Regions from separate parts of the Homo sapiens genome. Here regions 2, 3 and 4 are each reported to be linked to region 1. The links are microRNA targets in miRTarBase. Many come from high-throughput screens and were not tested one by one. Region 1 holds a microRNA gene; each other region holds the end of a gene's coding sequence.

Region 1 (8,011 bases):
GTCTGAGCCAGCTGCAGTGACATCCACCTGTATGTAGTCCCAGTTCTTGGAAGACTGAGGCAGGAGGATGGAGGCCGGGAGTTTGAGGCTGTATGATTGCGCCTGTAAATAGCCACTTTTCTTCAGCCTGAGCATCACAGCAACACCCCAAATCTTTAAAAAAAATCTGTCAGCACATTAAAAATTACTTTACTCTATGTCAATAAAGTAATTAATATAAATACAGATTCCCTTGAACTTCATGGACTTATCAAATCAGAATCCTTAGGAGAAGGCTCTGGGAATCTATATTTTAAAAAATCCCTAGTGATTCTGACACAGCTAGCCTGACACAGGGACCTGTGTTCAGGATTTAAAAGATTATTTCTAGGGCCTTTTTCTACTAAAATTCAGTTTCCCTATAAAACTGCAGAGAAAAATTATTGAGAAAATGATTTTCATTATAAAAGAATATGTAGCTCTTGCATAAAGGGCAGCATTTCTAGCTAATTTTAAAATTTATTTTATATTATTTTAGGCATAGATAAGGAAGAAAAAAGTTTTGGAAACTACTTCTGAGAGGGAAAAATATGCCTGAAATTAACCAACAGCCAGCTTGTACTTAACATACAAAATAAACAAAAGAATCAACTATTGTGTAAGGAGAGAACCCCGAAATGTTCCTCGTTAATCGAAATTCAAGAGTATTAGCGTCGGGAAAGATCTAGAGAGTCAACTCCCTCATATTAAAGAAGAGAAGATGGATTGCTGTCCTACATTCAAAGGAGGCCATTAGGAGCATGAACCAAGGGAAGCTGGTTTTCCTTCTATGCCTCTGCCAGGTTATTAAATCACCAGGCCTCCTAATCAAGAATTGCTCTTCGTGTGGAAGAACTCCTCTTCACCTGTTGCTTCCTCATATTATTTCCTGCCTCAGAGATGTAGAGGAACTGTAAAATTAGAATAGGATGTTTGGGTCTAGACAAATCCCAGTGAAAGCTAAATTATGGAAATTTAGTCTTTGTATAACAAATGAAAACCCTAAGTAGGCTGCCAAGGTACAAAAGCTTTCTTAACCCGAGACATTGCAAATACAACGTACTAAGTGAAAAAAGGAGTGGGTGGGGAACAGTGGGAGTAGAAGGCTGTCTAAAGGGAAGCTAGGAAAATGGAAAGTAATATGGAGAAGCAACATGCTCCAAGTGGAGTGTTTTACTATTTCATTGCCTGTTGAACTGTACACAAATAGGCACTACTACATAAAATAGCTATTTGAAACAGTTATGCCATTGCAGGGTAGAACATTACTCTCAAGTAAAGGCTTCTAACTGTACAATTAAAGTCTCAATCTTCTTTTTTTAACAGAATTTCTCTGATGTACTCAGCAAAGTAAAATTTTGAATAGATTATTTTATTTGAAGTGAATGATATTGTCAAATGTTAAAGAGTCTGCATTTTAAAATAATTTAAACAATATATAAAAACACTTGGCCTAATTAAGTAATCATAACAGTATGGAAAAATCTCTTCAAGAGCACCTTTGAAGGGAAATTTTATCACAGATCTCAGATCAGAACATAGAAACCCATCTGTGAGTTCCAGAGATCTAACATAAACCCTACTTTTCCTTGTAGGATGAGTTGCAGATTCTATTAAAGTGTAAGGGTTGACTTTTTTAATGTCACTTGTTTCATCATCACTCTGTAGTACATGTAAAGGCACAGATTGATGTATTTTTCTGGCATCTTCCTGACGCACCCTTGCCCTATATAAATCGGTTTGCCAGGATCTTGTTGCTTAAATTAGCGATTGCAAACTCTTGGTCCTGCCAACACAGCCGATTGTGCCAAGGTTCTCAGCATCTACTGGCACATGAACTGTTGCCTTTTCTTTGGCTTTCTGCATGTACCTGGGGCCATCATCCTTCCTTCACAAAGCAGCAGTCTGGCTTAGTTGTCCCTGAGAAAGACTTCAGGATTGGTTGGACTCAACTCTGGCCCTCTTCAGGTTGTGCATCCTGCACAATGTATTTTCAGCCACACAATGTATTGTTCAGGATTTGTCGTGCACATACTTGCAGATTGGCAGAGCCAACTGCCAGAGATGAGAACCTTTTAAGTTGTTGTCAAACGTCATAAAATGTGTTCCGTGATTAATTTTGTGGGCACAGATTGGTTTTTGCACAGAGTCCAAAATTTAGGATATGTCACAGTGACTAAATGGCACCGGCATGCTGAATGAATTTGGAATTTGTTTTGTCAAGTGTGGGAGCAGGCACACAGATGGGCTTTGATCCAGTGGTGCTGCTTGGAATTCTCATTATAGCAATGATGTCACTTGTCACGTGGAGTAAGTGATAATGCTGCCAAATTGTGGAAAAAGCAAGGCAAATAGGAAAGTACACAGACCAAGAGAAAGGACTTAGGTAGCACAGTAAGCTTTCACTATCAGATGAATGGACATAAACATTGCTTTTGGGCTGCCAAAAATATGCATAGTAAAAATACAGGCAGAAAGGAAAACTTCCAACTGAAAGGGCCCTTAAAGTAGGGCCCCTGTAATCCAAGAAGTCTTCACTTCTTAGAGAAAATCAAGTAAAGCAAACATGTCCTTGATTTTTATATTAGGCTATGAAAGAAATTTCTGAGCTGCAATCAAGAGTCTTTCTGCAATATCTAACCAAACCAAAGCCAAAGTATTTTGCTTTATAAAAAAAACCTTTGTCTATGAAGAAGATCAGCAGTCATGCTGGGAAATTGAAAAAAACAAAAACCTTATAGTGGCAAAGAAGTACAGTATACTCTCACCAAGCATGCACATCAGAATTCTCTGTAGGGCTTTAAAAATATATTCTTGATGCAGCTACAGCAGTGCTTAGAGGGAAATTTATAGCTATAAGTGCCTATATTAAAAAAAAGAAAAATATCAAATTAACAACCTAAACTTCTATCTTAAGACACTTAAAGCAAAACAAACTAAACTCAAACTAAGTAGCAGAAAGGAAACAACAAAAGTTAGGGCAGAACTAGAATAAAATAACGATACAGAATAGGAAAACATAGAATATAAATAAAAACAATTGAGAAAGATGATGAAACCAAAATCTGGTTCCTTGAAAAGATCAACAAAATTGACAATGCTTTAACTAGACTGACCAGGAAAAAAAGAGGAATTACTAAAATCAGGAATGAAACGGGACATTTCTACTAACCTTACAAGAATAAAAAAGAATATTAGGAAATACTATAAAAATCTCTCTCTCTTGCCACACACGCAGTATATACTATATATAACTGAATGTATGTCATGTAACTTATCTAATTTGTTGAAAAATATATTTGTCACACAATTCACGTCAGAGGGTCACCATGTAAATTTTGATTCAAAAACTCGAGTATGGCATGAACATTTGTATTTTCTGAAAATATAAAGGTTTTTGTGAGTGACATGTACTTTTTGTTGAGAACCATTGATCTACCACATGGAAGGCATAAAAATTGTGGAATTACAATTAAATATGCATCAATTAGAATTAGGTATAGCTGCATATAAACACAAAAATCCAGGCTGGGCATGTTGGCTCATGCCTATAATCCCAACTTTGGCATGATCTCAGCTCACTGCAACCTCCGCCTCCCGGGTTCAAGCAATTCTCCTGCCTCAGCCTCCCCATTAGCTGGCATTACAGGCGCCTGCCACGACGCTCAGCTAATTTTTTGTGTTTTTAGTAGAGATTGGATTTCATCATGTTGACCAGGCTGGTCTCGAACTCCTGACCTCAAGTGACCCACCCACCTTGACCTTCCAGAGTGCTGGGATTACAGGTGTGAGCCACCGCGCCCAGCTATTCCCAGTATTCTGGGAGGCTAAGGCAGGAGGATCACTTGAGGCCAGGAGTTTGAGATCAGCTTGGGCAACATAGCAAGACCCTGTCTCTACAAAAATAAAAAATAAAAAAAATTAGCTAGTCATAATAGTGTGTGCTTGTAGTCCTAACTACTTAGGAGGCTGGGGCGGGAAGATTGCTCAGGCCCAGAAGTTCAAGGTTGTAGTGTACCACTACACTCCAGCTTCGGTGGCAGAGCAAGACCCTGTTTTGGAAAACAAACAAAAAACTATTTTGAAAAAAAAAAAAAAACTCACAAAAGTCCAAAATAATAGTGCATTTAAAGTGAATGAAAGAAATCCATAGATAGGTAACTTGGTGCAAGTATGACAGCCCCATGGTATCACCAGGATCCCAGCTTTTTTCATTTTGCATCACCATCCTAGGACATGGCTTCCATAGTCAAGTTCACTCATAATCTGAGATGGCTGCAGGAATTTCAGTCATTACATGTGAGTTGCATGCCAGAAAAAAAGAATAAGGAATTGCAGAAGGGTAAAAATCACCCTTTCCAGTTGAATAAGCATCTTTAAAGCACCCTTTTCAGATGTCCAACATAATATTTTGACCTATATCTTCTTAGCCAGACTCAGTTACATGTCTCCATCTTACTGCAAAAGAACTAGGAAGTAAAATCTTTTATTTTGAGTGACAAAGAGCCCAGCTACAAAATCTCAACTCTGTCCCCAAGGAAGAAAGGTAAAATAAATATGGGGATAAGCCTTCAGCAAGCTTTGCCATACTACACCACAACTTCTGGAAATTACCTTTAAACCTAGTTCCTGCAGCATTCCCGGTCAATAGATTTATTTCCCTTCATTGGAAAGTTTTCAACTTAACTCAAAAACGTTTACTAGCAGGTGCTACAGGAGAGAGGAGAAATGTCAGATGTGTTCATGTCCTTGAGGAACTTTCAGGCAATTTCAGCAAACGGAAACTACACCAATGAGACAGTAGGAATGTTATCTACCTGTATGTACTGCAATGCTATGTTTTATGGTTTGGACCACTACTTTATATTTTAAACCTAAAAACCCATTGTCTGCAAACTGACTCAAACTAAATTGAAATAAGCCACATTACTGTTTTAACCCAAACTGATTCTGAAAGCTAGTATTTACTCAACTACAAACCATTCAGTAGTGTGAAGATTAAACAAACAAGCAAACAAAAAAACCCTCTCCAGATCCTCCAGATCCATGTTTCCCCTTCCTTCCTTTCCTGTCTGTCTCTCTCTTTCTTTCTTTCTTTCTTTCCTTCTTTCTTTCTTTCTTTCTTTTCTTTCTTTCCTTCCTTCCTTCCTTTCTTTCTTTCTTTTTCTCTTTCCTTCTTTCATTCTCTTTCTTTCCTTCTTCCTTCCTTCTTTCCTTCTCTTTCTTTCCTTCTTCCTTCCTTCCTTCTTTCCTTCTCTTTCTTTCCTTCTTCCTTCCTTCCTTCTTTCCTTCTTTCTTTCTTCCTTTCTTCCTTTCTCGCCCAGGCTGAAGTGCAGTGGTCCAATCTTGGCTCACTGCAACCTCTGCCTTGATTCTCCTGCCTCAGCCTCCCGAGTAGCTAGGATTACAGGCACCTGTGACCATGCCAGGGTAATTTATTTTTTATTTTTAGTAGAGACGGGATATCACCTTGTTGGCTAGGCTGGTCTCAAGCTCCTGATCTCAAGTGATTTGCCTGCCTCAGCCTCCCAAAATGCTAGGATTACAGGCATGAACCACCATTCCCTGTTCTTAGTGTTTCTTATAACTTCCCAGATATGAACAAAACCTTGCAAAAGAGCATTTCAATAATCTTTAGCTTCTCGATCTTCCAACTGATGTGGCCATCAAATGGCTAGTCAGAAGACAAATAGATGAAGACAATAGCTTTATTAAAGTCAATTCAAATTATGACCTACTATGGTAAGACACTGTGCTGGGGTCTAGAGGCACCAGGACTTCACCCTTCTCTCAACAGCTCACAAACCCAGTGGAAAGGGTCAGACATATAAGCAACCAACAGAAACAAAGGAGATGGCATTAAATATTATTCTGCTCTTGTTGCTTTAGTTGTTGCTGCTTATTGTTGGTCTTGTTGTTGCTTTAGTTATAGGGGTTTTTAACAGAGTTGCAAAGTGTTGTGGAGTAATGAGTGGGGAGAAATGATTTCTCACTGGAGGTAACCAGAAAACAGATTAGAGAGCAGTGATTCTCAACCAGGGGCAATTTTCAAACCCATAGGACATTTGGCAATATTTGGAGATATTTTTAATGGTTATGACAATGGATAGATGGATAGTCAGGGTGAGGGTTGGTACTGGCACGTAGTGAGTAGAGGTCAGAGATGCTGCTAAGCATTTTTCAATGCATAAGACAACTCCCTACAACAAAGACTTACTCAGCATAAAATGTCAGTAGTACCTAGGTTGAGAAACCCTGCTTGAATAAGATGGATACGTTGTACAAGAAGGATCAGAATTTTCACAAGTGGATGAATGGGGACAAGAATCCCAGAGAGAGTACTAAATGAGCAAAGCCCCATTGGAAAAAAAATATAGGCCCTGTTCAGGAAGTAGGAGGGAGGGCTTCAGTGGGGTATAGGTTACACAACGGAACCTGAGGAAGCTGTAAAAGGAAAGGGGGCTTAGCATTTAGATTGAGGCTGAGTGCAAGCTGCTAAAGTTTGGATTTTATTCTTTTGGCCAGAGTGAGCTATTGAAGGATTTAAAAAATGGAAGCAATAGGATTAAAAGTGTGTTTTAGAAATAAAATCAGAGGGAAAAGCTTTGATTCTCATAGCAGATTGTAAGAAAATTCCTTTAAGGGAGTCACCCTTATTTTGGGTGTTGTCTGATGTTTATTAACCTCTGGTTGTTGGAAAATAGCAAAACTGCAGAGAAGGGAGAAATTCTGCATATTTGGGCCTGGGTTGGATGGGCAGTGAGGGGTGAGGAAGGCCAAGGGAATGAGAGAGTGGTGCAATGCTGATGTTTGTGCTGTGAGACCCTTCTTCATGGCTTCCAGAGCTTTGGTAATCTTTACAAAAATTATAATATGCTTGTGCTTGGATTTCTTGTGCAAAATGACTATATTTGGGTTGATTGTGAAGATTGGGAGAGGAGGTTGGTGACAATGGTGCAATGGTAGCATAGAAGTAATAATTTGGATGCTTCTATAATGGGCAGTTTCTTCTCCTACTTCTTCCTTTCAGATCCTGTAGTCCTGTCCCACAGAACTGCTCATGCTTCTCCAGTACGCCAGTCTGCATCATACTTACATGCTCTTCTTTCTGCTTGGCACGCTTTCCTTTTCTAACAAACTTCTGCTCATCCTTCAAGACCCACTTCAAATGTTCCATTCTCTGCTCTGCCCTGTATACAAAATATCAATATTGTATTGTGTTTGCTAAAGTGTTTATTTTCCCCAACCAGAGAGTGAGCCCCTTCACGGCTAAGAATGGCATTGTAATCATCACTGACTCTCCAGCAGGTAGCAAAGCATATTACCGAAGCTCCTTGATCATTTGCTGAATGAACCATGGGTAATAAAATCAGTGAGTGGCAGAAAGATTGTGGCTCTGGGCCTACATAGCCTTTGCCTGGTTGCTGTTAGAACTACATTTTCTTCTCTTTATTAATTTTATATTTTAAACTTCATCCCCAAGCTTAAACATTTCCTTCCAATAGATGATATTCTATCAGGAAGAGAAAAAAAAAAAAACCCAAAGTACAACTTTAATCCTTGAGTGAATGGGCTAAAATCAGGTTTCAATATGCTTTTTAGAATACTTCCATGTAATTAATTTAACATTGACCTGCTTATTAAGAGTCCATTATTAAGGAAACAATTGTAAAAGTCATTAAGGGCATTTCCACAGATCTTAGCTACTGACTCATCTTGCTAGTTCTCAATAAACGTGACCTGAAAATCTCTCATTCGCAGTATCAGGTAAAATGTTATTTTTCTAACCATTAGGAAACATTTACTCTTGGGCTGATTTTTATGTGTTTTTATTGTTGTTGTTAATGTGAAGAAAGTCCTATACAGGAACAGCTGCGCATATGGGTAAATGCCTGGGAATGGTTTAAAGATGCCTTTTCAAAACATCTTCCCCACACTGGTATTATGCAATGCCTCTGTCTCAACAATTAATAAGTATTTCCTTTTGAGTTAA
Region 2 (7,992 bases), not on the chromosome of region 1:
TATGAAAGTATCAGAACTGGGATTTTAAGAGTCTAGATTCATAAGTTACTACTCCTTCCATTACAAAACAACACCTGTCTCTGTGGTGAAGTATAATTTTTTAAAGTCAATTGTTTTGAAATAGCAAAATAATAACAATAATAAAGGAAATGCACTCAATTTCTTAAGCATGTTTCATCCCCCACTGGATATATATCCTCAGCCTAAGCTCATTACTTATGAATGTGTTCACTTTCAGTCACTTCAAGCCACAGAAAAAGTTTAGAAAACAGATAATCAGTAAAAAGTGGTAGTTGTGAGAACTCCCAGCTGACAGTGAGCCCATATTAATGTCTACACACTTGTATATGCTCCACACTGATTCATTTGGGGCAAGAATAATAAGATTGATGAATTAACTCATAAAAACATCTACCAGCAGGCTGGGCATGGTGGCTCACGCCTGTAATCCCAGCACTTTGGGAGGCCGAGGCGGGCGGGTCACAAGATCAGGAGATGAGACCATCCTGGCTAACACGGTGAAACTCTTGTCTCTACTAAAAATACAAAAAATTAGCCGGGCATGGTGGCGGACGCCTGTAGTCCCAGCTACTTGGGAGGCTGAGGCATGAGAATGGCGTGAACCGGGAGGCGGAGCTTGCAGTGAGCCAAAATGGCGCCACTGCACTCCAGCCTGGGCGACAGAGCAAGACTCCGTCTCAAAAACAAAAACAAAAACAAACACAAACAAATATCAGCTTCTTTTCACTGATGGGAATAACAAGACAATCTGTGGTTTATAAACTGCGTGATTTTGTACCTTGTATTTTTCACAAATCCTAATAGTTTTACCTTCTGTTTTGAGCTTTGAAATTGAAATGAAAACCAGAGAACTTCCGAAAGTTCCTTAACATTCTACATCTAGTTTATATTTTCTGCCACTATTTTATTTTACGATTCTTTATAAAGTGCTGACAATACTTACATAATTAAGCTCTGTTTAAGTAAAATTATTAAAAACTTTTCATGAATTCTTATGCTCTCCAAAGTACAAATTTTATAAATTACAGTAACAATTGTTAACTAGGTGATATACTTTCCTCAGACAGAATTCCACATCTTGAAAGACTGAACTTACAACACAAAAAAATCTTCTCTAGGATTTCCACCTTCCAGCCTAGGATCATCTGATGTTATCTGTCACATGAAGCACTGCTCTTTGCACTTCACACACATAGATACACAATTCCAAAACCCTCAGATGAGTTTTTGAAGTCAGAATTTTGGATTTTAGAAGATAATGCAATACAGATAGACTATTAATAGTTCCCCTTTATCCATGGTTTTGCTTTCCACAATTTCAGTGACCCACAGTCAACTGCTGTCCAAAAATAACTGTTCACATAAGTTTTATTGCGGTATATTGTATATTCTATTATTAATATCTTACTGTGCCTAATTTATAAACTTTATCATAAGTATACATGTATAAAAAATGTACATACAGCATTCAGTACTGGGGGTCTTGGAATGTATCTGCCACAGTTAAGGGGCAACTGCTGTATTTTGTAACAATTTCAGCAGGATCAGTGCTAGCATTCTATAATTAAACATTTAATATTTCTGCTGCAAAATGTGACTATTCATATTATAAATTCAGGTCACGTTTTATATCACTTGTCATACAGATGCACATGCACACACACACACACACACAAAACATTAGTATTTTGAGCCTTCTGGATTAAGATACCTGTGGAGTTACATGAATTCATTCAACTAAGACCATGAGGCATGAGGGGGATCCTATTATCTCCTTTACATAGACACAAAAACTGAGGCACAGAGACATTAAGCACCTATATCCATTGTCACACAGCTAGTAAGCAATGTAGCCAGGATGATCCCAAACAGGATGGCTTCAGAGTCCATGCATTTAACCACTATGCAATACTGTCTTTTCATGTACTTAACAAAAGCTCTAAATATATATTAATAGTATGCGCAATTGTTTATTATTTAGATCTTCTGTGGCTGCATTATAGGGTACAGTTTTTTAAAAAACCCTATATAGGTATTAAGGACCATTTTCCTAACTCCTTCTAAAGAAACTGAAAATTACCTTTAGGTAAATAGCAGTGTTTCTGAAACATCTTTTTGTATAACTGAATCCTTTAATCATAGGAAAAAATAAAGTCAATGATATAGGTAGAAGTCTCAATGTAAAAATAAAACTAAAAATCCAAATGTGAAGGCATACCAAATATTTAAGACTCCAGACAAGCCAAAATTCAAATATATATATATATACAAAATGCTAACATAAGTTAGGAAAAAGGAAATAACCTGAAATATTCAAATTTTATTGGAGAAATCAGTGATACACAAATCCTAACATGTCTGTAGGAATAAAACCTTGAAACAATCTCAGCATTTGTACAACGGAACTGGTATGAGAGCTCCCAAGTTAAAGGAAAAAAAGAATTTCATTGGCATCATGTACCAGTCTTCTTACACATGCAACAGTTGTTAAAAGTACACTGTTTCTCTGTAATGATCTAGATTTGAGAAAAACAGCACCCTCTCAAAAATCAGACTACTTCTTTGCATTACTTCCAGTATGAGGCAAAAGATTTGGATTCCTAATAAGCTTTCCTACTTAAGAAAGTGAGGATCTCTAGGAATTTATCTTCCCAGCTCCTATATAAGAATTAGTTCTTGGCTGGGCACAGTGGCTCACGCCTATAATCCCAGCATTTTGGGAGGCCAAGGTGGGCGGATCATGAGGTCAGGAGTTCAAGACCAGCCTGACCAACATGGTGAAACCTCGTCTCTACTAAAAATACAAAAATTAGCTGGGCATGGCGGCCCATGCCTGTAATCCCAGCTACTCAGGAGGCTGAGGCAGAAGAATTACTTGAACCTGGGAGGTGGAGGTTGCAGTGAGCCAAGATTGCACCACTGCATTCCTTCCCTGAACGACAGAGTGAGACTGTCTCAAAAAAAAAAAAAAAAAGAATTAGTTCTTTAACTTGAATATTCTCTGCTTCATTTCCAGTCAGCTGATTTGGTAATAAAAATCATTCATTCCACATCTAGCTTATTAACCTGATGAGAGGATTGCAGTTGTCAGAAGTATGGGTAATGGAGTCTGATAGGCCTGGGTTCAAATCCCAGCTATTGCAATTACTTACTAGTAGAGTGACCTGGGCAAAGAACTTTACTTTGGCCCCATCATCTTTCTGATTTGCAATAATGGGATGCTATTGAAGGGCGATTAAAAATGAGATAATGCCACCCAATCCATAAGAAATGCTAGTACACAGTAACTACCACTATTTGCAGTAATGAGTCAGCATTCATTGTATATGATTTTAGCTGATTTGGAGGAGCAACTTTACTAAGGTAGGAAGTGAGGCTAAGAGTTAAATTAATCTCAGAAACCAATCACAAGGATGGCTCCAAATAGTAACATTTGTAGGTAAATCAATATTTTCCCCACAAGTTCCCAAAATAAAATCTCTTGGTGTGTGTAAAATGATCTTACGATTTAAAAAATGCACAGATGGAGAAAGGGAAACCACATCAAAAGAGATGAACCCTTTTATTTAAAACTACATATGACCCTTCCCTGCACAGAAACCAGTATTTTGTCCTTTTAGCTTTTATCATCTAATTCCTCTAGGCAGAAATAACTTAAATCCATACTGTCATATGGTTACAGTAGCAGGTATGAGCAAAAGATGTACTTCTTTAGAGCTAGTTACAAAGGGTAAGTGGCTCTAGTAACTAACAAAAACACACACCACCTAGAAACCGTCTACCTTTTTTTGGAAATGTCAGTAAAGCTACAAGTTCAGAGAGATGCACACCAATCTGAACAGGAAAGATTCCAAGGGAATTTAAGTGCATTAGGCTGATTAGATGGTAAACTAATATGCAATTTTGCTCTGGGTCAGTGATATATCTCAGATATCAATAATCTAATCTGATATGTAGATAACTGAGGAAGGAATAGAGAAAGGTAAAGTGGGAAAGAAGAGCCAAAAAATATTTAAGTACTGAACTAAATTAAAATTTCTATCTAAATTATTCATAATAGCATTGTGATGTATCTCCATTTTAAATATTTACTTGAAGTTCATAACTGGGCATGGTGGCTCACTCCTGTAATCCCAGCACTTTGGGTAGGCTGAGGCAGGTAGATAACTTGAGCCCAGAAGTTCAAGACCAGCCTGGGCACATGGTGAAACCCGGTTCTACAAAAAAAATACAAAAATTAGCCAGTCGTGGTGATGCATGCCTGTGGTCCCAGCTACTTGGGAGGCTGAGATGGGAGAATCATTTGAGCCTGAAAGATTAAGGCTACAGTGAGCCAAGAATGAAAATGTGGGCCAGGCACAGTGACTCACACCTGTAATCCCAGCACTTTGGGAAGCCGAGGAAAGAGGATTACTTGAGCCTAGGAGTTGGAGGCTACAGTGAGCCATGATCGCACCACTGCACTCCAGCCTAGGTGATAGAAGAAGACCGTGTCTCTAAACAAATTTTTAAAAAAGGAATAAAAATGTTTTTAAAAACTAGAGTTATTAATGCAAGCCATCCTCTTTCTCCATTCCATTTCACTCCCTATAGACAGAAAACAGATTGGCCAGTAAGTGCCAGTGCTAAAGGCTGAGCTTGTTAGTTGGCAGTCAACTCTGAATGGGTATTAAGACATAAGACAGGAAATTATCAAAATTGACCTTGATGTTTCAAACTTGTGGTATAGATATCTAAAGAGATTACTAGATAGCAGAGTTCAAAAAGCAGATTATTCTATTCAAGATTCTTTGAAGACAGTGGGAGAATTCTGGATTCATCAAGGTGCAAATTATTATGGAAATCAGAAGAGATGAAGTCTACAAGACCAAGAAAAACATGTATTCCAGGACTAACCTTAAAAGGGAAAGGAAACATTTAAGAGGAAAAATACATACATTCTGAAGAAACAAAAGGCTACTAATACTAACAGCACTGAGAACCAAAATTTGAGAAATGAAAATTGGAGTCTAGAAACAAAGAGGGAACAATTAATAGCTACATTGAGATAGCAGAGGATAAGGATAGAGTTAAGAGGCTCTTAATCAGAAAGAAGTTTTTTGTTTTAACTTTCTGGAGGCTTACAAGCTTCCATTATCTAGAATGATTAAACAAAGCAGTACTTTAGAGTGGGATTCTTAGGCAGCAATCTAGCCTACTTTTCAAAATTCCCTTGACCTATAATGAATCTAATGTATTTGACAAGGTATGTTTTATAATGCTTTCAGTCATGTGTTTTACAAACTCCCTTCAGACCAGCAAAATCCCAAATCCCACAACACTTAGCAAATCTAGCCAATGGGTAAGCATATTCTAGATAATATATCCTTTAAAACCAACTAAAGATAGTACCAGATTTTTTTTTTTTAAACAGCTATTTATTTTTTTTGAGATGGAGTCGCCCAGGCTGGAGTGCAGTGGCATGATCTTGGCTCACTGCACCCCCTGCCTCCCGGTTCAAGCAATTCTCCCTGCCTGAGCCTCCCAAGTAGCTGGGACTACAGGTGCATGCCACTACACCCAGCTAATTTTTGCATTTTTAGTAGACACAGGGTTTCACCATGTTGGCCAGGCTGGTCTTGAACTCCTGACCTCAGGTGATCTGCCCACCTCCGCCTCCCAAAATGCTGGGATTACAAGCATGAGCTACTGCACCTGGTCAGAAACAGCTATTTTAATAGTGTCATCTTTAAGAAAGAAAAAGTTAAGCGGCAAAAATATGCTTCTGTATTTAGAACCATGGACCTTTAATTATAACTCTAAGACTCTATGGATTATTTACAAAGGAACTAAGAAAGGCCTAAACCTGCTGAAGATTATGAAGGTAGTCAATGACAGAAGACTTGCTAGAGCTAAGCATTCTTGTCTCTGGTATAGTGCTATACGTCCTCAACTATGCCTCTGCAGCAATAGCCTTCCTCTTCATCTTAGGATTAATGGTACTGAGAAAATTTAACATACAGAATACAAAAGTCACTATCCTATTTTCCTAAGAAGAAAACTTTAGAAATCCATCCAACCAAAACTTAATTTTGCCTTTTCCTTCAGTGTTCAAGAAGAAAAAAATGTATCTAGTAGCTCTAAGTGGACAGAAGGACAAGTGAAAACTCTAGAATGCTTAAACAAGCTATAACAACAGGTTTGGGCACCATCTGGTATCACCTTACTGAAACTTTCCTTAGTAACTCCCCTACACCCCACAACAAAGGACGAGAAGGAAGGAGCTGAATTCCTACTGTTTTGGAGGCTGAAATGATGACCCGTTTGCCTCCCACTCCCCCTGCTCTGAGGGTATAGAGTAGTGCTTTGCCATAAAAATGTTAGTGACACCTAACAGAGCTGAGACCAACATCTGGGGTATTACAGTTGAGAAAATCATGGTGAGAAAACAAAGTCAGATCTACAGGTCATCCATAGTCTATACTTTATAACAGCCTAGACTGTAAACAATTTTAATCACAGAACATTTTCCTGTCTCTAAAGTGTATTTATACCGAGTTCAGCATTCAATCTTTCCACAGTTCCTTCATGAATGTTATTTTTTTTCCCTGCTACATTTATAAGCTCTTTGAAGTTAATAATCATGTCTTTAATTTTTTGTATTCTCATGATATCTATATATTCTAGGCACAGAGTAAATACTAAACATATACACATTAATTTACTCTCACAGCAGTTACCATAAACCAATGAAACCAAAGTAATCATGGGGACGTGACAACAGAGATTTTCTAATAAAGAAAAAAAATACCAAAAAACCCACCAATGCTGTAATTTCAAGAATCCTGTCGTGATAAAAGAAGCAAGTGGAGTTGGGCTTTCCTAGAACCTTCTTTGCCCTACCTTCACAGATTATCCTTAGTATAAACTTGCAGTGTGTTAAAACTCAGGTATCTATGTTTTATACAGAAACTTGCAAGGTAACGACCAAAATATCTCAGTGCAATTAAATTTACAAATTCTTCCCATTAAAAGAACTACATGGGAATTCCCTGTGATAATTTCTCAAAGTTCTCATTAAAAACTTAAGAAAAAGGTAAATAAACCAAACATCTTCATAGAAAAATTGTATTTACAACTCCATTCAAAAGCAGTTTTTAAAAGCAAACACAATGTAACACTGAAGGTGAAAAATCTAAGCTCACCCAAAGCTGCCAGGTCTAATAAATTACTGACAGAATACTGTATCAAAAATAAGGCAATAACCGAAAATATACCATTAAAGATTTCTCCATCCCCACAACTAGATAGAATGAATCTATCTAGGAGCAAATGACATGCTTTATTCAGTTTCACCATGTCTGAAACCTTTAAGGACAGAAGTGATAAAATGTTATCTTCATTCTTCATTAGACTTGAACACTTGAAGGAAAATAATTTCTAAAGCACAAAGAGGTAAAGAAGTATAATCTTTCAAAAAGATATTCAGTGTTCAAAATTCAAGAATGCAATATCAATACACAATGGGCATTAGGTGAATATACACAATACGATGAGAGCAAATTAATTTATTTAGTACTTTTTCCATTCCATATCATCAGGAGGATTGATTTCAACTTTCCTTTTACCTACATCAGACCAGTTGGTACTCAAAACTGTACCACCCGACTCCATCTGCAATGAAAAATAAAAATAGATTAATTCCTGGACCATATAATCAAAATAGAATATTTTTCTTAAAATGTTCCAAGCATAGAGCCCCAAATATTGGCTATTATATACAGCTCAATATAAACTCTATGCAATACATATATAATAGATTATACAGATAAAATATATAGCTCAATATAAACTCAAAACAATATTTTTATTTAAACTTAGGCATTCCAGAGGTTAACAAGTTCCATAAAATCTGAAAAGGAAATCCTAAAGTAGTCAGGGAGGTGCACTACATCCTTTGCTAATGAGCATAGATGTGCATGTGGAAAAACT
Region 3 (7,898 bases), not on the chromosome of region 1:
GAACCAGTCAAGAAATCCCAGCACCGCTCTTCCTCCTCAGCCCCACACCACAACCATCGCAGTGGGACAAGTCGCGGCCTCTCCAGGCAAGAGACATTTGACTCGGAAACCCAGGAGAGTCGAGACTCTGCCTACGTAGAGCCAAAGGAAGATTATTCCCATGACCACGTGGACCACTATGCCTCACACCGTGACCACAACCACAGAGACGAGACCCACGGGAGCAGTGACCACAGACACAGGGAGTCCCGGCACCGTTCCCGGGACGTGGATCGAGAGCAGGACCACAACGAGTGCAACAAGCAGCGCAGCCGTCATAAATCCAAGGATCGCTACTGTGAAAAGGATGGAGAAGTGATATCAAAAAAACGGAATGAGGCTGGGGAGTGGAACAGGGATGTTTACATCCGCCAATGAGTTTTGCCCGTTTGTGTTTTTTTTTTTTTTTTTTTGAAGTCTTGTATAACTAACAGCATCCCCAAAACAAAGTCTTTGGGGTCTACACTGCAATCATATGTGATCTGTCTTGTAATATTTTGTATTATTGCTGTTGCTTGAATAGCAATAGCATGGATAGAGTATTGAGATACTTTTTCTTTTGTAAGTGCTACATAAATTGGCCTGGTATGGCTGCAGTCCTCCGGTTGCATACTGGACTCTTCAAAAACTGTTTTGGGTAGCTGCCACTTGAACAAAATCTGTTGCCACCCAGGTGATGTTAGTGTTTTAAGAAATGTAGTTGATGTATCCAACAAGCCAGAATCAGCACAGATAAAAAGTGGAATTTCTTGTTTCTCCAGATTTTTAATACGTTAATACGCAGGCATCTGATTTGCATATTCATTCATGGACCACTGTTTCTTGCTTGTACCTCTGGCTGACTAAATTTGGGGACAGATTCAGTCTTGCCTTACACAAAGGGGATCATAAAGTTAGAATCTATTTTCTATGTACTAGTACTGTGTACTGTATAGACAGTTTGTAAATGTTATTTCTGCAAACAAACACCTTCTTATTATATATATAATATATATATATATCAGTTTGATCACACTATTTTAGAGTCTTAATGCCAAGTCAGCAGATTTGCTTTATGAATTACAGGGACTAGAAATGCCCACATTCAGGAAATTTGTAATAACATTGTCTAGACACCTATCCTCATTCTAGTAGAAAGTGTGTACATACTGTAAATATGTGTGATTGCTTGACTTGAAAAGGTTTGAATTCTGAATGTTATACCATCCTTGTAAGTAAGTTTGTAATTTCCACCATAAATTATGGTAAATATAAAACTCCAGAGGTTGTTCTACTCCATACAGTTCACACTGATTGTGACACATTCTTAGTAGCTAGTGTCTGTTCTAGTCACTGCACTGGAGTCTACGAGCCGGAACTCGCTATATGCACGTGTGTGTGTCCGTATGTAAGAAAGTGTGCACCGAGTGACTGAATGGTTGAGATGAATTGGAATGCTGAAGACTAACGAAGAAACTAGAGACTGATATCGAGCATTCTGCCCACCTCGCTCTGTATTTAATTAATTGTGCTATATGTTGCTTTAACAACCCATTGAGCAGTCAGGGAATGTGAGTAAGCTTGCTGCCAAAGGTAACTAGGAAAGCATTCATCTGCTGCCTCCTTGTTTTTGCTCCTAGAGAGTGAAAATACAGGCAATTTTACTGTGAGTGTTTCACTGGAAATGTACAATCTTTGTGTGTTAGAGTATTTGTTTTAGTAAGAAATGTTTACACAGCTTGTGGAATTATTTCGTGGGAAAATAAATTTTTATAACTTCTCCCACTTCAATTTCTAACCTTGCCTATTGTTCCTGTTGTTTGTTTACCTCCCAGTTACCTACCATTCCTCCCCACCACCGACTCCAGCAGGTTCACTGTCTGTCAGAACCCAGAAGTGCTTCTTATAACCAAAGTTTCTGTTCTTCAGAAGAAATCAGGGCAAAATGGGGTGACTTGAAGTGAATAAAATGTTAAGAATATTATCCTACATAAGACATGTACACAGAAGGGGAACCTTGAAGACATTATCTCCATGCCTCAATTACACTGCTGTAAGAAGCTTACAATGTCATCATGTTTAAGGCTAAGACCTTTTCCGTGTCTCAAGTGTATATTTTGTCCAGTTATAACTGGATGGTAAGACAGTATTAAGAGTGCAAGTACCTGGCACTTGAAGTTTGTCCCAGGAAAATGCCTGTGTATAATTACCTAACTTCAGATCTGCACATTAACTTATTTAACAAAATAAATCAGCCGGGCGCAGTGGCTCATGCCTGTAATCCCAGCAATTTGGGAGGCTGAGGAGGGTGGATCACCTGAGGTCAGGAGTTCAAGACCAGCCTGGCCAACGTGGCGAAACCCCGTCTCTACTAAAAAGATAAAAAATTAGCCAGGTGTGGTGGTGCACACCTGTAATCCCAGCTACTTGGGAGGCTGAGGCAGGAGAATTGCTTGAACCCAGGAGGTGGAGCCTGCAGTAAGCCAAGATCACACCACTGTACTCCAGCCTGGGTGACAGAGTGAGACTCCATCTCCAAAAAAGAAAAAAAAACAAAAAACAAAAAAAACTATCCAGCAAAATTATAAAATCTACTTTGTTTTGCTTCCTTGATTATTCCAAGTTCTTACCAAATATTCTTAGCCTTTTATAAGTAAAACTGTTTTACATTTAACTCCTTATTTCCCTTACCCCCAAGAAAACGCAATATTAAAAATGATTAAGCTGGGGTGGTAGAGTATACCTGTAGACCCAGCTACTTGGGAGGCTGAGATAGGAGGATCCCTTGAGCCCAGGAGGTGGAGGCTGCAGTGAACCGTGACTGTACCAATGCACTCCAGCCTGGTGACAACCTGGTGTTTAAAAAAAGAAAATAAAAATTAGTTACATATATAATGTTTTATCAGCTTATATATGAAAAAATTTCCCTCAGTTCGTTAATTAGCCCTACACTGTTTACATAAATTTATTTACTGAGTATAAAATCAGTAGTCATAATAAACTTGACAATTCTTACATTGGTAGGAAACCATATTCTAATTAAAATTGAATTTATAAAATATTTCTGATAAAACTTTTGTCATGGTAAGAGATTCACAATTATTAGTTCAATCCTTTATTATTTCATCCCAATTAATGATTTTAGAATATTTAAATTCTTGAAACATAGCTAGTATTTATCTTACTTGCTGCTATCATTAATCCCTTTCAAAAAGTAGTGGTGAGAGTTTCCATCTTTTTTATTTTGTATCTAGATTCTTAGCTTGCACTTTACTGTAGAACATATTAGTGCAAATCAGAATATTCCTCAAAGAACTAGCTTGAAGGATTTGACATAAGAGCCGCTATATGTGAAAAACTGTATAGTGGACATATGTGTAAACTGTGTAGTAAATCTGTAAATGAGGAAATAATCTCAAGGGCAATGGGATATTTACTGACCTGCGGAATGTAAAGTTACAGTCTTTTCACACAACAAAGGCTTAACCTTAACCTACTCAGTTGTAGAGCCATTTTTGTAGTCAACCTAGAAAATGCTGGAAATGTATTTAATAGTTTTTTTTTTTTTTTTTTTTGGTCATATCCATTTCAGTCTTTCCTATGCTCTTTCTCTACTGCTCATTTAAGTTACTGTTACAAAAAGGTGCTGCTAAATGTAGGATGTCTTAGTCATGTTGTACTTTGGGACAATGCCACATTTTTAACATGGTCTGCTATGCATTCCTGTTAAACATTCACTGTCAGCTACACTGAACTGTCTAACAAACCTGGTTTAAAGTAATTCATATAAAACAAATAAAGAGCTGGCTTCTGCACTGTTTATTAGTAGTAGTATTAATTGCCATGTTAGAAATGATTCATGTAGTTGAGACTATATTAAATATTCAACACTTCCCAGCTGCAGGGCATCTTTCTTGGGGCAATGCTAAATACTTTATGTTCCTTTAGTAATCTTCCTATTATGTCTGATTAAAAAAAAAGATACCTCCACGTAGATAAAATATTTTATTCAACGTGAGCTCTAGCAGAATAATCTGGGTCAGTTATGAGTTCTGGATCAAGAGTTTAATTTCTGCTGCGCTGTACTTTTAACTATTTGTACTTTGCTTCATTATTTAAAACATGACACAGGGTTTTAAAGTAAATGTACTCACTGTTGAACTTAAGTACTTCTTCTGTTTCATAGAAATGTTAATATTAAATGTTAAAATATATATTAATTTTCCCTCACATTTCCCTGATTTTTTCACCTTATTGCATTTTTTTCTTATACTGCTATGTCCCATAAGTTTATGTGATTTTCCAGTTTGCTTAAGTTTTTGAAAGGAAGAAACCCACTGAAAATTAGCTCTGTTCAAGGAAAAATTCTGAATAGTATTCTTTGTCCTGTTTCCAATATGTAAATACTTTTCTTCTATTTACTGGCATTGGTTGTATTTTGATATTTGTTGGTATTAATCAAACATTTACACCAGTAAAAGTTTGTTGCTAGGCTGATTCTCTGCCATTTTCATCCCAGCTTAGCAAATAAGGATGTGCAGCAAGCATTACAGAAAATGATTTTTGTAGAGTTTCTTAAAAGACATTTAAAGTTTAAAGAGGTATGCTGAGCCCTAAAAAGATAAGTCCCACAGGAAAAGTGTTTCTCTTTAGTCAAATGACAGCTACTGGATATAAGGCAGAATGAGGGATGTAAGAGAGACACATGTTTGCTTGAAATAATTTTTCTCTCAAACAATAATCATCTATTGACTGTTTGCTCTGAAGCTGTGACAGAGAAACGGCAGGACAGGGTCTCTGCCTGGAGGATGTTTCCCAGGTGTGGGGCTGGGGCTTAAGGTGCATGGCTAGAAAATTTGAATGAGAGTGTCGTAAGTGCCAGGAGAACATTAGATGTGGGAGCCAGGGGCACAGAGAAGGGGAGCAGTGCCTATCCAACCTCAGGGAAAGGTATTCAAGAAAGCCTCCTTTAAAGAAGAGGCAATCTAAAGGTCTTACCTGATCCAAGAGACCTTGCAATCCTTATGGATACAATAAATAGTTATGAGAAATTCCTAAAGAAAACCTGTGGAGGGCGGGGCGGGGGGGCGGGCGGAAATCAAACTATTAACCAATTGTCCATTTCTTAAGCCCAAGGCCTAATAACTTTTGGGTGATTTGAATGAAAGTTAACAAAACAGTATGATGGATTTAACACCATGAGACAGCCTTAAAACTATGGCTGGGAAGTAAGTATTCTGATTGATCTAAAAAGCCAATAGGAAGGCAAAATCCTAAGGCTGTAATGTTTTTTTTAAAAGCTGGCTGGGTGCAATGGCTAACATATGTAATCCCAGTGCTTTAGAAGGCCAAGGCAGCGGGACTGCTTCAGGCCAGGAGTTCAAGACCAGCTTGGGTAACAAAGCAAGATCCCATCTCTTTAAAAAAAAAAAAAAAAAAAAATTAGCCAAGCATGGTTGCACACAACTGTGTTGTCCTAGCTACATGGGAGACTGAGGCAGGAAGATTGCTTTAGCCCAGGAGTTTGAGGTTGTAGTGAGCTATGAAATCATGCCACTGCACTCCAGCCTGGGTGGCAGAGCAAGACCTTGTCTTTAAAAAGTAAAATTAAATTGAAAAGCAGTCACTTATTTTGGCCACTACAGTGGGATGCTTGATTTTTGCAATTCGAAGGATGATCTGCTTTTTGTCTGAATTCAGACTTGATTGTGGTCTTTTTTTGTCTGGATCTATGATAGGTACGGCTGCCTTGTCTGATGTTGGGGATAGGTGAAACTGCTTACGTTCAACAGGAGAACACCAAGGCCCAGCTATAAGGGTCAGGTCAGGCCACTTCCCAGCTGCCAGAGCTGGTTTTTTCTTTCTCACCAAGCATTTTCTAATAACTGATATGTTTCAAATACATGATAAGTTATCCAAATTGTAGAATAATCTCATTTTCTAAATCTACAAAGTAAAGAAAATACTAACTTTACTTTTTCGTTTAAAATTATGAAAAACATTGAACATAGACTACCATTTAGACTACGATAGTCTTTAGACTATCACTTCACACTATCATTCAGAGGAGGTCCAGACTTCATTTGAAAGGGGGTTGACTTACTAAATAAGCAGACAGAGAGTCAGGTAAAATACTTACCTCCATTATTGGCACATAGTCAATGTTTTACTTCCCATGCCCTGAATCCTTAAGAAACTAGGAACCTAGAAACAAAAACAACTTTTCATAACCACATCAAATATTGCTAATTTATTCCTTTTGTTAGATTCACTAATTTTTAACATTAAAAATGACTTGTACACTTTACAAATTAAAACATTAGATCACAAATGAAAATATGCTCCAGACATCTATAGGCATCTGCTTTTCTTTATACTCTACTAAATACATAAAAAAAAAAAATCTTTTAAAAACAGAAAATATAATCTCATACCACCCCCTACTTCCTCTATGTCTCTGGATCCCTGGTAAAACAGCTGGCAGCCTTTTCTGTTTCCATAGCAACCACATCATCATTCAGTTGGCCTGACAACACTTTGGTTAAAAAAAAAAAAACCACAGACAGCAAATGTTTGGAATTTTCATTTCTGAGCATCCATCCCTCTCCTATGTGCTTTTGCATTTTACAAATTTTGCAATAAAAAAACCTATAGAGTCCTTATTAGCCAGACGCAACATGTCTTCTCTTCTGGCCTCTCTAAGAGAGTCCATGTCAGTGTCCGGTAATGGCACAGCCGATGGATCAAATCGCTGCAGCTGTTTCAACTGTTCACATGAGAGCCCAGCTCCCCTCATTCCTTCTCCTCCAATCTGCGGTTCCTGTTTGGAGAAAGTGGATCAATATGGATGAACATCCTGTAATTAGCAAGTATGACTGCTACAATTTAAGTTAAAAGACAAATTGGGCTGTAACGACTACATCTTCCAAAAATAGAAAAATGAGTAAATGCCTTTCATTTTGGTGGAACATACGTGCTGCTTTCCAGACAGTAAAGTAGGAAAGCAATACTATGCGTCACCTGATGAACAAATACCTATTATTACATGCTTATCAAACACTGTGACATTATCAAAGGCCTGAGCTTCCTAGTTGGAAACAAGTGGACTCAAATTGCAGCTCTACCACATTTTAGCTGTGTGACTTTAGGTAATGTTAACTAACCACATTTCCTCATCTATTAAACAAGGCTTAAGTAACGAAGGTGGTATCACACCTGGCATATAGCAGGGACTCAGTAAATGGAACATTATTATCAATAAAGCAGCAAAGGCCAGGCACAGTGGCTCACACCTATAATCCCAGCACTTAGGGAGGCCGAGGCGGGCTGATTACCTGAGGTCAGGAGTTCAAGACCAGCCTGGCCAACAAGGTGACACCCTGTCTCTACCAAAAATACAAAAATTAGCCAGGTGTGGTGGTGCATGCCTGTAATCCCAGTTACTTGGGAGGCTGAGGCATGAGAATTGCCCGGGAGACAGAGGTTGCAGAGAGCCAAGATTGTGCCTGGGCAATCCAGCCTGAGCGACAGAGTGACACTCCATCTCAAAAAACAAAAAATGAAAGAAAAGAAAAGAAAAGAGAAGGAAGGGAGTGGGGACGGGGAGGGGAAGAAGAAAAAGAAAAAGAAAAAAGAAAAAAGAAAAAAGAAAGCAACAGAAAAAATTCAGCTTTATTTAACAGTTTCCAAAACTGAAAGGTGGTCTTTGGGCATCTAAGGTACCTCTCTCTGACCCATACCAGTTGGGCGAGAAAAGTTTCTAGAAAAACAAACATAAGAAAGGAAACATAATTTAAGGCTGTATCAATTAGTTTAGAGGAATCATAAGGCATTGAATGATACTTGCAAACTACTGAAGAAGATCTATAATCCTAAGTCAC
Region 4 (8,011 bases), not on the chromosome of region 1:
AGTGGTATAAGAGGCTCCTTATGTCGGGTGTGGTGGCTCACGCCTGCAATCCCAGCACTTTGGGAGGCTGAGGCAGGACAATCACTTGAGGTCAGGAGTTTGAGACCAACATGGCCAACATGGTGAAAGCTCATCTCTACTAAAATTAAAAAAAATAATAATAATTAGCCGGGCCTGGTGGTGCATGCCTGTAATCCCAGCTACTCAGGAGGCTGAGACACGAGAATCACTTGAGCCCGGGAGATGAAGGTTGCAGTGAGCTGAGATTGCACCACTGCACTGCAGCCTGGGACACAGAGTGACACTCTCTCAAAACAAAACAAAACAGACAAACAAAAAAGACTCCTTAGATTCAAACTGGATTCCGGCCTCGGTTCCACTGGTCATAATTCAACTACTTTGCATCTCTAAGTCTCTGTTTCTTTAACTTCAAAAGGAAGTTAGCCTTTTCCTTGCAGAGGTGCTGAGGATTAAATGAGATAATACGTGGAAACATTAGGCATGTAGCACACTTAGCAGATGGTGGTTGGCTCCGCCTGCTTTTCCACCAGTCTGTGGCCTACAGTTTAAATGCTGGGAAAAAGGGCGTGAGATTTGATGCTAGGGAAGGAGGCATGGGGTTCTAGGCAAGGGAGACAGTCTCTTAGGCCTGGAGCAAGGGGCCAGGGGCCTGGGCAGGCCACAGAGCCCCACAGTGTCCTCGCTACCCTATTAATGGGCCAGGAATCTGGAAGCCAGCCACCACATGTCCTCATGCCCAGGGTCTTCCGGCAGGTGGAGCTGAAGAGCCAAGAGGCTCCGAGTCTGCAGCAGCAGCCAGACCAGTAGCTGGAGCCCCAGTCCCACAAGGAGCTTGGATGTGCGGACAAGCAGGGTGGTGAGTAGAGCCCTCAGGCGGGGTGGGCAGGCAGGAGCAGGGGAGGCTCGCACTGTGCCCAGATTCCCACCCCCCTCCCTCTCTCTGAAGATCTTAGTGGGCTGAGCCTCACTGATAGCATGGAGGCTGCACCGGGAGAGGACAGGGAGGGTTCTCCCCCATGACAACCCCACTGCACAGCAGATCCAGCAGCTGCTTCCTCTAATGCAGGACTCCCCAGGAGCACCCAGGCTTGAGTGGAGAAGCTGTTGGTACAGGAGAGGCGGCAGGAGGAGCAGGAGAGGCTGCATGCCATTCTTTTCGGGCTGCGGAGAACAGGGAGCTAAACATCACCATCATCTAAGAGCGGGTCAAGGAATTGAAAAAAAAAAACAAAACATTTAAGGGGTTAATATCCTACACAATTCATTTACTTCATTTGAATGTTAGAGCCACTTATGTTTATTTGTGTTTCTAATTTATAGTTTAAATTTATTTGTGTTTCTAATTTATAGTTTAAATTTATTTGTGTTTCTAATTTATAGTTTAAATTTATTTGTGTTTCTAATTTATAATTTAAATTTATTTGTAAAAAGTTAAATGAGAGTGGGTGTTTCTCTCATGTTCACTCTGGCATCTTTTAGCATTTTTTTAATTTGATAATTATAGGACGTTAGCATGCATATCGAGTTTGCCCTTATGTGGTGGGAGTTCAAACACACAAAGACCCACTGTATGCACACAACTGTTCTTGCTGGTTTGGGATAGGCTGCCATGCTTTTTGAATGTTAGTACAGCCTGTATATTCATTACGGAATTCAGATAAAATTTCCTTATGTTCTGCTGTTATGTTTGATCGAATCCTAATCACAGTGAGCTCTTCATTAGCTCAATATGCAGTTTGCCCTCAAGTGCGCGGTCTATTACTTTGTAATATGCCACTGTGAGTACTGACATTTACAGTTGTTTAAAGGTGGAGCACTGGAAACAGCCTTTCCCCCTTTTTCTGTGTATTGGGGATGGGAGTAATAACATTTTGGGGAGGTTTTTAAATCTCCCAGAAGAGGAAAGTGGCCTGCTTTGGCAGGTGTGTGCAGGATAGAATATGTTTCATTTGTTCCGGTGCCAAGAATGAGCGCTGTACTACGGTAGTTCCCTTAGGATTTGTATGTGCTCTGGGCTCATGAAGATACTGCCTCATGAGCTGTGGCAGTTGTACTCTTTTTTGATGACCTGAAAAGGGATTATTTCTGAGGAATGAAAGGCTCCCATCATGACTGTGGATGTGGAAAACCTTTTCTAGCTGAGAGCATTTATATCTACAATACATTTTAAAGTCAGCGTTCATGTTCCCTGTTTTAATCACATGACTACATGTCCCAGTACACAAAAGGGCACTGGTTGGCGTTCTCCTTAATGTATTTAGTAAAGATCAGAAGAAATCCTTTAAGAGTTTAAATGCCCCTGGAACAGGCATATACAGGCTCTAGTCAAGAATGAATTCGAGTGAAGGAAAGCTGTGTGACACCTGGCATTCCTCTGTGTTCATGGAGCTTATTTGAGGCTAGAAGATGGATTTTACCATCTAGACCTCTCTGGCTAATAGCTAGTCTTCAACCATCTGACATAGGAATTTACTTCTTTTCCTTGAATGGAGAACACTTTAAAAATAATAACAAACATTATTATAAACTAATATATGTGAGAGTACTTAGTTGAAACAAAAAGGAGTTTTAGTAGACAGTATTATACTACATTTGAAAATCAAGGAGCAGTTTATGCAACGTAAAATGTTTACAAACTGCAGCGCAATCTACTGTTTGTGACTGTCAAAGTGTCATGAGGAAAGTGTCTATACAATCACAGAGTTATATTTCCTCACAAAGTTCTTTACGAAGAGTGAAATATGTTTTTATACCTCTCAGTTTCAGTTAGAGGCATATTTTGTGTAATATTTATGGCTTAAAATGGACTAAAGGTCCTGTTCTTGCCTTGTCTGAACTTGCCGCTTTTGCATTCTTTGAGTTCAGTTTAAAGACACTTACTTTAACTCCATTTTAAACCCTCGGGCTAGAAATCGTACCACTGTTAATTAGCCACGTTATTTGGTCTAACAGTTTTTGTTTATCATTCTGAAACTGAGCTTATCTAATACATTGATAAATTATTTCAAAGGTATTTTTATAGTTCAAATCGCTTCACTTTTACCCTGACACGTATAAATGAATAGGAATGACCTTCAGATAGCGTTTAGCAACTGTAACCAATCTGACAATAATGTGTTCATCAGGTACCTGTGGATTAAATCACATACTGGCATATTTAAGATGAATGTCAGTCTGAAAAATAAATATACTATATTAATTCAAATACGACTCTTTGTGTAGGTATTTTGTCATATGTTTAAGAAAAAGCTAAAGAGAATGGAAATCCTATGACAATAACTCAAGTCTTTCTTCAAAGTGCATGCAGTCTTTTGCAGTACCTCATTCAGCCAAGTATTTGTTCTCTACCTCATTCAGTATAAGGCAGCCTTTAATTTGCTTAGAAGGCAACATTAGAAGGTTAGAGTTCAGCAGGAACATAGAATTTTAAAATGTGACTTCAACTGAATAAATTTGAATTTCTCTAGGGAGTAAAGAATCAAAACACCTATTTAAAGACTGCAAAATATGATAATTATTTTTAAAGTAATTGATTAAACCTGGTAGGTTTTCCCAAAATGAAAAACAATCAGTTCTAAAACCAAAGCTGATTTTTAGAAAATGTGAAAATGTAAATCAACCCTATCCATAATAGATTCTCTAAAACTTTATCTTACAGTCACTTTCAAATAACTATTCAAAAATGTAACTGCTATATTAACGTCTTAAAATAATTTAAAACATTTTAAAATATGAATACTGTAGTTTAAAACAAAGAATCTAGGGGAAGGAAAAGTAGACAAAGAAATGCCAATTCCAGTCCAAAGCTGTATTTGCCAAGTTTTCTTAGAATGACTTTTACCGATTTATGAATTCTTATACACAGAATGCATAATGGAAATACTGATTTTTGTCTAAAGTGGCATTATTGACTGCTTCTGTGATGCTACTGTAATGTAATACATTATTAAATTGTTTCAAGGTGCTGTTTTGCCTAAAAATTTTGTGTGTCTTGAAAACTATAGTATTGGGTATTGAGACTCTGCAAATTCTCGGCATGCTTGGCATGAGGTAATCGGTTTTTATTCTTACAAAATTGTAACTATGTAAGTGTGTTTATTAAAAGAACACAAACTAAAAAAGTTAACAGAAATTAAAGTTGTGGGATGAAAAAGTTACAGGATAAAAAAATACTGTGGAAAAGTGGCAAAAAAAAGTTGTGGAAAAAAAGTAAAAAAAAAGTTTTATGAAAAGTTATTTTAAAAAGTTATGAAAAATTAGTTACAGGATTTAAAAAAAGTCATGGGATAAAAATAAAAATAAATAAAAGCAGGCCCCTGTCAGCATAAGCCTGGAGAAGTGGGTCTGGAGTCTTCACCCCCACCATGTCCCTACAACCCCTCCCCAGTCAGCCCTTTACCATTAGGGTAGCAAGACAAGACCCTTGTCTAATGGAGGGAGACAAACAGACCCTTTACCACCTTGACCAAGGCTGAGTCCTTACATTTCTGGATGATGATGTTTGTTATTTAAGAGCCAGAGGTTGGTGGAGTTGGTTTGTTTGGAGGAGGTCTGACGGCCTTCTTACTCTCACCAAAGCAACTTTTCCCTCAGGGGGGCTCCCATCTTCTTACTCAGAGAGGCAGCTGAGGCGGGACAGTGGAGTTAACTGTAGACCAGGCCAGGGCACAGGCTGCTGGGGGTGGCCCCCCTTCCCCCGTGTACATACTGTAGCTGTGTAACATTCTGTATCGTACCTAGCGGAGGTTGCAGCTGGCATATGAGGAAGAGGTTCTTATAATTATTCGCGGCTGGGAAACTTATTTATTGCTAGCATAGGAGCGAGGAAGGAGGCGGGGATGGGGTCATGGCTCCCTGGTGATGGGACTCCTGTTTTTGGTTTGTTGTTGTTTTGCTTTTGATTTTGGAATAAATGGATTTAGCCATACTGCTCGGCCTGTTATGTTCCCGTTTCCCTCACTGGGTCCTGCAGTTTGTCCCACTCAACGAGGAGCCCCAGAGTGTTTCAGCATGTCCAGCTGGGCTGTGGGGAATCTTCCAGGCCTGTTACCTGTATGCTGCCTGGTGACACCTGGTGGATTTCACGGGGACTGCCATGGCACCTACGGAGTACAGTCCGGCCCTGACAGTCAACAGGTTGAGAAGCCTGATCTAGCTGTGGCAGGGAAGACAGATACCAGTGCCCAAGGGCACTGACTTCCATCCACCCCAGGTGTCTTCCGTTCCATCCCCCTCCTCCCGTTCCTGTCTGCACCAGGTGGCCTGTCTGTCCCTCCAGAGTGCCGGCTGCCCCACAGGCTCCTTCCAGGCTGAGTTCAGGGCCCTGTCCCCTAGTGGCCAGAGCCGGCTTCACAGGATAAGAGCCAGCTGAGCTCCAGGGACTTTCCAGGAAAAGTGTCCCTTGAAAAGGGTGTGACCTTTTCACTGTTCCCAACAACACCCTAAAAATGGCTTGGCCTTTTCCATCCCCTGAGCTCCATAGAGAACACAGCCAGCAGAGGACACATTCTCTGTCATCCAGAAATGGGTTTCTCAGCCGAGGGACAGCAGGACTGGTAGAGACTGTCAGGCCACACAGCTGCCTGCACAGCACCGCCATGCTTGGCCAGAAGGGCGGGAGGGATGGCGGGGGCTGGCTCTCCACAGGCCGCGCATGTCCCGGAAGCTCACTGGAGGTGGTGCACTTTGGAGGGGCGATGTCAGGAGACAGCTTCCTCTTGCTGGGCTACAAGACTCCACAAGCACAGCACGGGGACTGATTCCCAGTGCTAGAGGTGAGGCAGTTGGCCACGTGTATATATGTATATATGTGTGTGTGTGTGTGTGTGTGTGTGTGTTTGTGTATGTGTGTGTGAGAATTTATAGCTATAGAACAGGGCAGGGGCATACCACAGAGGAGGCACAAGTTTTCAGCAACGGTCACACCTGGACGTGTCAGCTCACCACTACAACAGACTAAGTCACAGATGAAGGGGGCTGGCTTTGGGGCTGGGGGAGCCACTGTCAAGTCACAGGACACCCGCCCAGGCAGGCTTGGAAAGGGAGGTCTCTGGGAAGAGGGATCTGTTTAGACGTCGAAGTGGGGCCTGGGGCTCCCTGGATGGGATGGACTTGCCTGACCCGATCAGCTGGCAGTTGGAGAGAAAGCAGAGAGAAAACGGGTTAGAGAAAAGCCAGAGCTGGTGAGGCAAGTGCAGAGTATGGGTGCGCTGCAGCAGCTGTGGAGGGCCGGGGAGGGGAGGGCGTACGTGTGGGCGTGGCAAGGTTCCTGGAAAAGAGGGGCTGGAAGGAAAAGGGGAGGGAGATGGAGGGAGAAGCTGGAGCTTCATAGGTAGTGCCTGGGGACTGCGGCGGCCCTCCCTACCCCACACACGCTGGCCTGTCTCATGGAACCCAGGCAATCCACCCATCCACCCACAGTTCAGACCAATGCCAGCTCCCTCGGGCTTCCCTCTTCTGTGGTCCCCATGTCTTCCAACCCACTGGCCCAGGGCCACCTCTTGCTTGGAGAGCCCCATCCAACAGCCACCAGGCCTGATAGAGAAGGAACACTGCCTGAACCAAAATGGTGGAGCTATAAGGGATGGCTGGCTGGAGTGGTCGCCAGAGGCCCCTCTGGGCCATCAGAAAACCCAGGGTCCTCTGAGGGACCCTAGGGAAGGCAGGGAGGGCAGGTAGCCAGATGGCACTGGCCATAGACATATAAGTCTAAGAGGGGAGCCTCAACTGGTTGGCGGGGGGCTGCAGGTTGCATAGGTGAGGCTGGGCCTTTCCTGCTGGGAAAAGCAGAAGAGGAAGGCTAACTTTTGTGTTGTTTAGTAGAGAGTGGGTTTCACCATGGTGGCCAGGCTGGTCTCAAACTCCTGACCTCAAATGACCCATCTCTGCCTCCCAAAGTTCTGGGATTACAGGCCTGAGCCACCGCGCCCGGATCCAAGGCCCTTAAGCTTAAATGCCTCGTTCTTCAGTCAGGTTTTCCTTGTTCCCGCATGTTCAGCCAATCGTGTTTAAGGAGAAACTAACAATGAAAACGGACTCGTTGATGGAGGAAAAGTTGGAATGCAGCCTCTGGTGCTGTTTGAGCGATCCCTCTACCCCGGGTCGCTGCTGTGTTCTGGAAAGGCGCATTGTACCCTGGATGCGGCAGGTAAGAGTCCTGTCCAGGTGCTCTGCCCGCTTTTCCTTTCAGGCTTCTGTATCATCTATTTTTCCCCTGTAGAATGTGCCCCTGACAGCCACCCCCTAACCCTACCCAATTTGTCTTTACGTGTCTGACCATCAAGGCTCTTCTGGGTCATATTTAATTCATGCTGATATTTCCCCTTCCTCCCCTCTTTAGTCCTCACTATTTTTGCTTTGGTCATGTTATGCCTTATTCTATAAGGCTTTAAAAAATTTTTTTATGGTGGCAGGGGAGAATATAATTATGCTTTGTGCTTTTTATCTTCCACTCAATAAATGCTTGGTAAATATTTGTTTTATTGAACGTATGAGCCTATTCTAGCTATATTGTGCTTGAACAAAAATCTTAACTGCCTTGTAAGTTAACTGCTAAGAATTTGTCAGAAGTGCAGACATAACATCAAGAACTTGTCATGGATAGTACAAAAAGGTCTCTAAGGGCTTGATGGAGGCCTGTAAATTGACTTCCTATGAAAGAGAGTGTAAGAAGTGAAAATGTAAAGCATGACTGGAGAGCCAGAGTGATGAAGCCAGGGTCCCTTTCTCCAGATCCTTTGTAACAGTGTTATGTGATCTCTTCTAGAAGATCGTTCTGAAAGATAATGCCAACTCGGAACCTAGGAAACCACCTAGTGGGTTTCTGCAGCTTAGGTGTTTCAAATCCTCATCAGCACGTTTGTTTTCTCTGCCTCAGTTTGCTTACAATGATGTTCTCAGTAGCTATAACTGCTGTCTGTCTTTGAATACTTAAGCATTTTTTTTAGATGACAGGGATATATGTGCATTTTTATTTTACCAAGTGTTAGAA

What was found. The annotated mature microRNA hsa-miR-8087 reads GAAGACUUCUUGGAUUACAGGGG and lies in region 1 at 2,532-2,554, opposite strand. An mRNA with a match to its seed (bases 2 to 7 or 8) in the 3' UTR can be bound and repressed. Matches are read on the target gene's strand: a 7mer-m8 pairs with bases 2 to 8, a 7mer-A1 pairs with bases 2 to 7 and ends in A, and an 8mer does both.
Region 2: miRTarBase lists SUGT1 as a target of hsa-miR-8087. Seed matches in the 3' UTR shown: 7mer-m8 at 5,899-5,905, 7mer-A1 at 5,821-5,827 and 7mer-A1 at 2,248-2,254.
Region 3: miRTarBase lists CACNB2 as a target of hsa-miR-8087. Seed matches in the 3' UTR shown: 7mer-m8 at 454-460, 7mer-m8 at 487-493 and 7mer-A1 at 1,063-1,069.
Region 4: the mRNA of GOLGA6L4 is a reported target of hsa-miR-8087. Seed matches in the 3' UTR shown: 7mer-m8 at 3,304-3,310.

The regions. Positions count from the first base shown.
Region 1 is chr11:27,512,484-27,520,494 of GRCh38, forward strand. MIR8087 (microRNA 8087) reads right to left here and starts at 2,564; the gene lies at 2,487-2,564. All of the region lies in intron 1 of BDNF-AS (BDNF antisense RNA), which reads left to right.
Region 2 is chr13:52,687,416-52,695,407 of GRCh38, reverse strand. It overlaps SUGT1 (SGT1 assembly cochaperone of MIS12 kinetochore complex), which reads right to left. Exons shown (of 13, transcript NM_006704.5): 13 at 1-7,674. The coding sequence ends at 7,573. Among named protein-coding and RNA genes, the nearest start is that of SUGT1, 39 kb to the right of the region's middle.
Region 3 is chr10:18,539,308-18,547,205 of GRCh38, forward strand. It overlaps CACNB2 (calcium voltage-gated channel auxiliary subunit beta 2), which reads left to right. Exons shown (of 14, transcript NM_201596.3): 14 at 1-4,250. The coding sequence ends at 417. It overlaps NSUN6 (NOP2/Sun RNA methyltransferase 6), which reads right to left. Exons shown (of 11, transcript NM_182543.5): 11 at 6,254-6,838. The coding sequence ends at 6,626. Among named protein-coding and RNA genes, the nearest start is that of CACNB2-AS1, 4.0 kb to the left of the region's middle.
Region 4 is chr15:84,241,373-84,249,383 of GRCh38, forward strand. GOLGA6L4 (golgin A6 family like 4) reads left to right here. Exons shown (of 9, transcript NM_001267536.3): 8 at 775-877; 9 at 1,088-3,986. The coding sequence ends at 1,220. It also overlaps the pseudogene UBE2Q2P8. Among named protein-coding and RNA genes, the nearest start is that of GOLGA6L4, 9.6 kb to the left of the region's middle. RefSeq lists an enhancer at 5,101-5,240.